2 separate regions of the Homo sapiens genome follow, and region 2 is linked to region 1. The links come from fine-mapping of genetic effects on gene expression. Tissue or cell type: nasal epithelium. Region 1 holds a variant in brackets; the other region holds the start of a gene. All regions are shown on one strand. Distances are from middle to middle.

Region 1 (4,000 bases):
TCTGTATTCCTCCCGGGCTGAGTTAATTTGAACTTCTGTCTCAGCAGAAATTTCTAGCTTCTGTGTCACCTCCTCGGCTGTCCTTTTTGTGTTACTCAGCACGACAATGAGACTTTCATCTTCTACCAGGGACCCCTGGGTACTTGTCAGGCGGTAAAGCAAGTTATCTTCTAGTTCCTTCATCCTTCTTTTGTTTGCAGTTACATCTTCCATCAGATGAGTTCTTTCTTTCTCCAATTCCTATTAATTTGCATAAATATATTTTCTACCTCAATTAACAACTCTTGTTGAGTATTCCTTAAGACGTTAACCTACATGGCTGCTTTGAAGCTCCCATACTGTATTTATCATAATCAACTGCAGGAAATATGGACATCAAAAAAGAAGGGCCGGGCGCAGGGGCTCACACCTGTAATCCCAGCACTTTGGGAGGCAGAGGCGGGTGGATCATTTGAAGTCGAAAGTTCGAGACTAGCCTGGTCAACATGGTAAAACCCCATCTCTACTAAAATACAAAAAAAAATAGCTGGGCGTGGTGGCGCATACCTGTAGTCCCAGCACTTTAGGAGGCAGAGGCGGGTGGATCATTTGAGGTCAGGAGTTTGAGACCAGCCTGGCCAACATAGTGAAAACCTGTCTCTACTAAAATACAAAAAAATTATCTGGGCATGGTGGCTCATGCCTGTAGTCCCAGCTGCTTGGGAAGCTGAAGCAGGAGAATCCCTTGAGCCAGGGAGGCAGAGGTTGCAGTGAGCTGAGATCATGCAACTGCACTCCAGCCTGGACAACAGAGTGAGACTCTAACATAAAATAAAATAAAAAATAAAATGTTAAAAAAAAAAAAAAGGAGGAGGAGAAGTAACAGAGGAAGGAAGAATAGGTGCCAAGCAACATGAAACCTGCAAAAAATACTACCAGCATCCCTTTAATCACCCATTTATTTTCTCAAGTCACATCAGTTTCAAGTGATTGCTGTGATTATATTTAATATTATATATATAAAATCTTCTTTTGAAGGGGAAATATATTTGAAGACAAAGATATATATCTCTGATTAAATAGGTTTACTTCTGTCTACTTTCTTAAGAGAGTTCCATTATTGTTTAAATGTGGTTATTTCAAACTTGCTAATTGAAAAAGTATCCAAGTCTGTGAAAAACTACTCTCCGAAATCTTAGGCAAGCAACTGAGCTGCAACTGTGAGCACGTTTAAATTGAAAAGTCTTCTTGGCCTGCTGTTCTCTCCAAAAGCAGAAAAGTTTTGCATCTTTTCTGAGGGAGCTTTGGAGACAGCTGGGAGAGTGAAGCCTTGGAAGACTATTATCCTTATTGGCCTTTTCTTCCTCTTGGCAGCTTGGAGAGGGAGAGACAGAGGAAGAGAAGGACAGAAAAGATGGAGGTGGTGGCAGGGGTGGGAGAAGGAGAAATACGTGTGACACCAAGCAAGCCACAGGAAGAGGAAGCCCAAAGGCAGGGAGACAAAACAGAAATATGCTTCTGGCACCAAGTCAAATTGTACATGGATATCAACTTGCTATATGAGAGACTCTATCTGTGATGCTAAAGAAAAGAATCAAAAATGGAAAGAACAATAAAATGATACGTACAAATTTAAAATGAAACTTATGTATTAGAGAGTTTATTTGAAGAGCTTCCTGGATGTGGAGTCCATTGACAATTTGCCTATGTTTAACTGCGTTTATAATGTACAATTCATTATAAGTAAAATACGGGGAAACCAGGGTTAAGTGCAGGTGACAAACAGCAAAATCACAGGAGCTTTACCTGTGATTTTGACAGTGCGTTTGACAGTTCTGACTGGACTCACGGCAGCTACCTGAACGTATGGTACCAAGCTCACATCTCTAGACCAGCTTCAGAAATCTACATTCTCAATTGGGTACTCTGGATATGACTCAGTAGGTGATATGGTTTGGCTCTGTGCCCCCACTCAAATCTCACCTTGAATTGTAATCCCCACAATCCCCAAGTGTCAAGGGTGGCACCAGGTAAAGGTAATGGGGTCATGAGGGCAGTTTCCCCCATGCTGTTCTCATAACAGTGAGTGAATTCTCACAAGATCTGATGGTTTTATCAGCATCTGGCACTTCCCCTGCTTGTACTCACTCTGTCTTGCCACCCTGTGAAGAAGGTCCCTGCTTCTCCTTTGCCTTCCGCCATGATTGTAAGTTTCCTGAGGCCTCCCCAGCCATGCAGAACTGTGAGTCAATTAAACCTCTTTCCTTTATAAATTACCCAGTCTCGGGTATTTCTTCATACCAGTGAGAGAATGGACTAATACAGTAGGTTTTATAGATTCTACTCCCTATTGAGAGAGCCAGAAATCTAGAGTGA[G/T]GCAGTGATGAATCATATGAAACCATATAAAACATAATGGACTATTCACTGATTACATGATTAATTACACAATTTACCTTTGTTATGATCCGGTATGCACACAGACATGGAGGGAAAGGAGAGGCCAGACCCAGCCCAAACCGTCACTGTTAACCATTACGCAAGTTCTTCCCTTTAGTGGCTCTTACAATTATTCATTTTTAGTACTTAGTTTATGCTTACGAGAAACTTATCCCCATACTACTCCATGAATTACATTTTGTTTTAAACAGTATCGCTATGCTGATGACTCCCAAGTTTATATCTCAGCTTCAGATCATACCTCCTTTCAACTCTCCACTTGGACATCTAAGAGACTTCTCCTACTTAGCACCATCAGCAAAACTAAACGTCTGATCCTCCCTTCAAACATGCTCAACCTCACCCTTCCACAGCCCAGCAAATGGCAACACTATTCTTCTAGATGCTCTGGCCAAAACCTTTGAACCCTGCTTGGTCACTTTCTTCTCCTCAAATTCAACAACAAATTCATTGGCAAGTTCTATGACCTCCACTTCAAAATGAGATTCAGAATCTAATCATTTCTCACTCCCTCCACTATCACCACCCTGGTTTAAACTATCATTGTCACCCCCCTCTAAATTAGGAGGTCTAAACAGGTCTCCCTACCCCAGCCTTACCCCCTGGTCTACTCCCAGCCCAGCAGTCAGAATGATGCTACTAAAACATACTTCCTCTCTCAAAACCCTCCAGTGGCCAATCTTTCCACTCAGAGTGAAAGGTAAAGACCTTACCAAGGCCTATAAGGCTCTACCAAGCTGCCCCCTCCTTCATTACTGCTGGGACTTCATTTCCTACTTTTCTCCCCTTTTTCACTTTGCTCTAGCCACGTTTGCTATTTCCTACATCAGTGGTTTTCAAATTTCAGTGCATTAGGATCACCTGGAAGGCTTGTGCTGTAGGCCTGGAACAGCATCTGGGAATTTGCACTTCTAATCCCATGTGATGTGATGCTGCTATTCCAGGAAACATGCTTTGAGACTCACTGTCTTAAACACACAAGGAACTCTCTTGCCTCAGGGCCTCTGCATTAGCTGCTGCTCTGTCAGGTCTGTTCTTCCAAATAACTCACTCTCTTCCCTTATTCAAGTCTTCCTCAAATGTCACATTCTCAGTAAGCCCCACTGTGACCACCCTCTTTAAAATGCTAGCCCACCAGCTGACTCCCCAGCTCTCCCGCTCACCAGTGTCTGTACCTTTTATGGCATTTACCACCTTCTAACATAATACATAAATTATTTATATGTTATGCTCCAGGGATAGTTTGGTCTGTTAGTCTATTTTGTTCATTGATAAATTCCTAAATTAGTGAAACAAAGCCTGGTACGTAGTAGGCACTCCATTAACACTGCAGATTGAATGATTAAATGTTGCATCTCTTTTCAAATTGATAAACTGAAACACACAGTGAACTGGAAAATCTAGTCTTTGTGCCAGAAATGCAGATGTGGAAATGCTCAATCTCTGAAAACCATGACATTAAAAATAAAGGAGGTGTTAACAAAACTGCATGAAGGCAAACAGCAAAGACCCCTGGCCTCTGCTTTATGTTTCAGCCAGTTAATCACCACTGATTGAATGGTTA
Region 2 (4,000 bases), 210 kb after region 1:
CATCCTAAATATATAATTGAAACCTCCAAAAGACTTGACTTACTCTCAAAACATAGTTCATGTCAAGGAAGAATAATTCATTAATTATACCTGAGATTTTATCATCAATTGTGGTGTTTCAGACTTGGTACTGAAGCACAGGAAAAATGTTCAGACATGTGAAATGTTTAATTCATTCAACTTATTCCACAAGCATATATTAAGGACCAAGCATATACTATGGACCAAGCTCTGTGTTAAAGGAAGATTATTTTAAAATGGAGAGAACTCGCAATCTAGCAAGAGAAAGAGACATGTGGGTAAATGTCATTTCACTACAGTGATGTGACAAGGACTCTATAAGACATCGAAGGAAAGTGCTGACAGGGTACAGGAAGGAAACTCACACCTCCTCCTCAAAGTGTCAGGGGACGCTTCTCAGAGGAGGTAACACTAGCACTTGGTCTTGAAGAATAAGCAGTGCATGGACTGGCTGGAGTCAGCTCTTCCAGAATGGTCTTCTAACTCTAGCAAGCAAGTTCAGGGGCTTGGCTGCAAGACGTTCACCTTGGGAAGGATGCATCAGAATCTTGTGGCTTGGGCAAGTGAGGGGTGGCAGATGGTGGCATACTTAAAAAATTCAGAGGTAGATGCCTGCTCTTTTGTGGTAAAAACAACAGGCTAGGGGGGATCATGTGAGCTTCTGGGGATACACAAAAAGACACAGTGATCAAGCCCAGTAGGAAGCATGGGTTAATGGTTGAGAACTGAGTCCTAGAGAAACCTCCAATTTCTTCTGACGTTAATTGGCAGTGGAAGAGGTTTCCAAATCCCTCTCTATGCATTTGCATAATAAAAAGCTGCTGAGCTGAGCCCTGTGCTAGGGAAGTTCATTCTTCAATGTGATTTCCAAAGGCACAGCCTTGCATCTCACTGTCTGTGACCTCATTTGCAGGCATATAGAACAGGGGAGTGATTTCAAAGCCTAAACCTTGCAGCCTAGAATCTGCCTTAACTATTTCTAATCACCAACTAAAGTTTACAGGTTTGAAAGAATACAAAGTGCCCAAACCACTATGAATGTGTTTTTGACCCCAGGAAAGCATCTTCCCAAAAGATGCAGCATGAATTTCTAGGTGCGTAGTTTAAGCGGCAACGTGCAGAAAAGCCTACAGATGCAAAATTTTTTTTATTTAAAAAATGAATATGTAGCCTATGCACCAGGTGAACATTAGTTAAAAAATGTGTTTCTCGCAAATTCATCAGTGTGTGACTTTGAACCTTTTTCAAGTTTGTTTTTTCCACCCAGGTGTGACAGATGATAATCCAAAACACACATGCAAAGGTACAGACAACAGCACCTTACCGTTAAAACTCGAGTGACGCTATGCTTCCAGAGCTGTCTCCTCCCAATCCTAAACATTGTAGCCGTGCATGGACAGGCTGGAGTCAGCTCTTCCGGAATGGTCTTCTAACTCCTGGCAGACCTGCTCAACATCCAACAGGCTTCCAAATGGAAAGTTTTACTTCCATTTTACTTTCACGTTTCTAATTTGCATGTATTATTCACTACATTCACAGAATAAAAATTAAAACTCCACTTATACCACTCAAGTTTTTCTCCTAGAGTGTCTGCCCTGGGCCTCTCCTCTCTCTCGAAGCCTGGTGTTGTTAGGGTAATATTGTTTATACACTATACAGTTGAACCATGCCTCTTAATCATGTTTATCAAGCAATCAAAGCATTTTAACTGCTCGGTAGCAACACAACTCCTTCTGTTGTTCAATTAATTCTATTCACTGCCCAATAATAAGCATTGAGTCAACAGTGATATCTAAATAGTTTCTTTGAACAATGAGAAACTTTAAACCATATCAGATTAGAAATCCAAGAAGCCACAGCTCTGAATATATTGTCCATGTCGAGAAACTCAGTCTTACTTTGTGTAAACAACTTTGCAAGCACGATGCACTGCCAGCATTGTGACTAATTGTGACTAATTGCCAGATAGGCTAATTGTGACCCATAGGAGCCATTTTCTCCACCACAAAGAACAAGAAGTCTGTTTCATATGCAAATAGCAAACCATGTCCATAAATTACTTGTGCTCACACAGTTGCACATACACTTCAGCCAAGGTAATTTATCCTATGTGGCTAAACATCTTGATCATCTTAACTGTGAAGATGTAATGGGAAAACACTGCCAAATGCTTTGAGAGATCTCTCATGTATGGTTTCTCCCATCGAGTTGAATAAAAGGCAGGACACTTAAGGTTGGTCTTGTTGAATCTAGAATTTAGTCCTTGGAATTCACAGTCCAGCAACTCAAATCCTAAAAGGTCATCCAAGGATAATCAGGAAATTGGGAACTCATCCTGGTAACATCCTGCTAGTCAACCTCTGTGGAGCCTGACTTGGAAGGCAGGGTGCTGACATGGTTTCAGAACATGGAGATTCACTTGGTCCATATCCAATGCTAGGGCACGGACGGCCTCCATATGTCAGGTTAACAGACAACATTTAGACCTCAATATTATTTGGTAAGTAAATAACTAGAACACAGGAAGTTTAAGTTTGTTTGCAGGATTTTTTTTTTCTTTTTTGAGACCTGCAGGTCTCACTCTGTCACACAGGCTGGAGTGCAGTTGCGTGACCACCACTCACCACAGCCTCAACCTCCCAGGCTCAGGTGATCCTCCCACCTCAGCCTTCCTAGTAACTGGGACTACAGGCAAGTGTCACAACACGCGGCTAATTTTTGTATTTTTTGTAGAAACAGGTTTGGCCACATTGCCCAGGCTGGTCTCAAACTCCTGGCCTCAAGCAATTGCCCACCTCGGCCTCCCAAAGTGCTGGGATTATACGCATGAGCCACCAGGCCAGGCCCTGCAGGATATTTGTTGAAGTCAACCTCTGGTTGTTGGTAAGCGGCTGTTGTCCGTTTCTAATAAAAAGTGTTGAAGACAGTATCTAGACTCTGAGTCCCTTCTCTGTGTGGTGCTGAAGACACCAGAAAATAGCAGTAGGATCGGATCCTCCTCACATGGCATCTCCTATCCATCCCAAGAATCCTCTGTCAACACATGACCTCAGGACAAACATGTTACAATTCATTACATCGCCGATTATCTTTCATTAGTTACATTTGAATCGGTGCTTCCCTAATGGTATTTTAGGCACCATCCTCATTGCAGCAGCAGCCCATTTACAACGCATCGCTTGGGGAGAGTTACTTCCTGGGAAGATTTCCACAGATGGCTGATGGCATGCATTTTGTGTTTGGCAGGCATAACCATGACTCCCTTGAGGCTTCACAGCAAACCGGGAAGCCTTCCAGTCTGTGTGGCTGAATTTCAACCCCTCGGGCAAGGTAGATGGCGTCTTAAGGTATCTTCTTGAGCGCTCAGGCTCACTGGAAGTTGTTGAACAACACAAACAAAGCAAGCCAAGGCTGAATTTACAACAGGCCACCTACCCCCGCCAGCCCCTGCCAGAATGAAAGTCAATTTCTGGCATTTGGAGGGAAATGATCAAACATTGTTCGGTAGGAAACTCAGAAAGGCTTGCCTACAAATAGTTTCCACCAGGCAAGAGCTTCAGCTGGCAGGGCTCTATATATAGGACTCACACGAGGGAGGTCTGCAGCCCCGTCTGTGCGGATAGTACACCCTTCCAGGCTGAAAATATTGGTCATACACAAATCCTGTCAGACATAATGGGAAAACAAGAGTAGACAATGGACCTCATGTGGGCGGAAGGCTTCATCCAGAAATCCAAGTACCTGCAGGCAAAGTTTGAAGTTCCACTTTCATTCATTGAACAAAAGCTCGTGAGTGCCTTTTACGCAGCCAGACGCTGCGCTATACACTATGAATAGAACAGCTAATAAAAACAGATGTTTACTCAGACATTTAAAAATATTAATTGTAGAATGCATAATTATCCTATGCAACACTCGGAATGAAAAAATAATGCTGCCTATTCAACATATCCATTTTAAGGTGCATTCTGATTTCACA

Evidence for each region. PIP is the estimated chance that this variant, and not a neighbour inherited with it, causes the effect.
Region 2: it holds the start of DNAH5, and the variant in region 1 is fine-mapped to the expression of DNAH5 in nasal epithelium (TOPMed, PIP above 0.99).

Annotation. Positions count from the first base shown.
Region 1 is chr5:13,737,256-13,741,255 of GRCh38, forward strand. DNAH5 (dynein axonemal heavy chain 5) reads right to left here. Exons shown (of 79, transcript NM_001369.3): 66 at 1-240. Among named protein-coding and RNA genes, the nearest start is that of DNAH5-AS1, 120 kb to the right of the region's middle. The variant G/T (reference allele first, on the strand shown) is at 2,356.
Region 2 is chr5:13,943,037-13,947,036 of GRCh38, forward strand. It overlaps DNAH5 (dynein axonemal heavy chain 5), which reads right to left and starts at 1,652. Exons shown (of 79, transcript NM_001369.3): 1 at 1,346-1,652. The coding sequence starts at 1,402.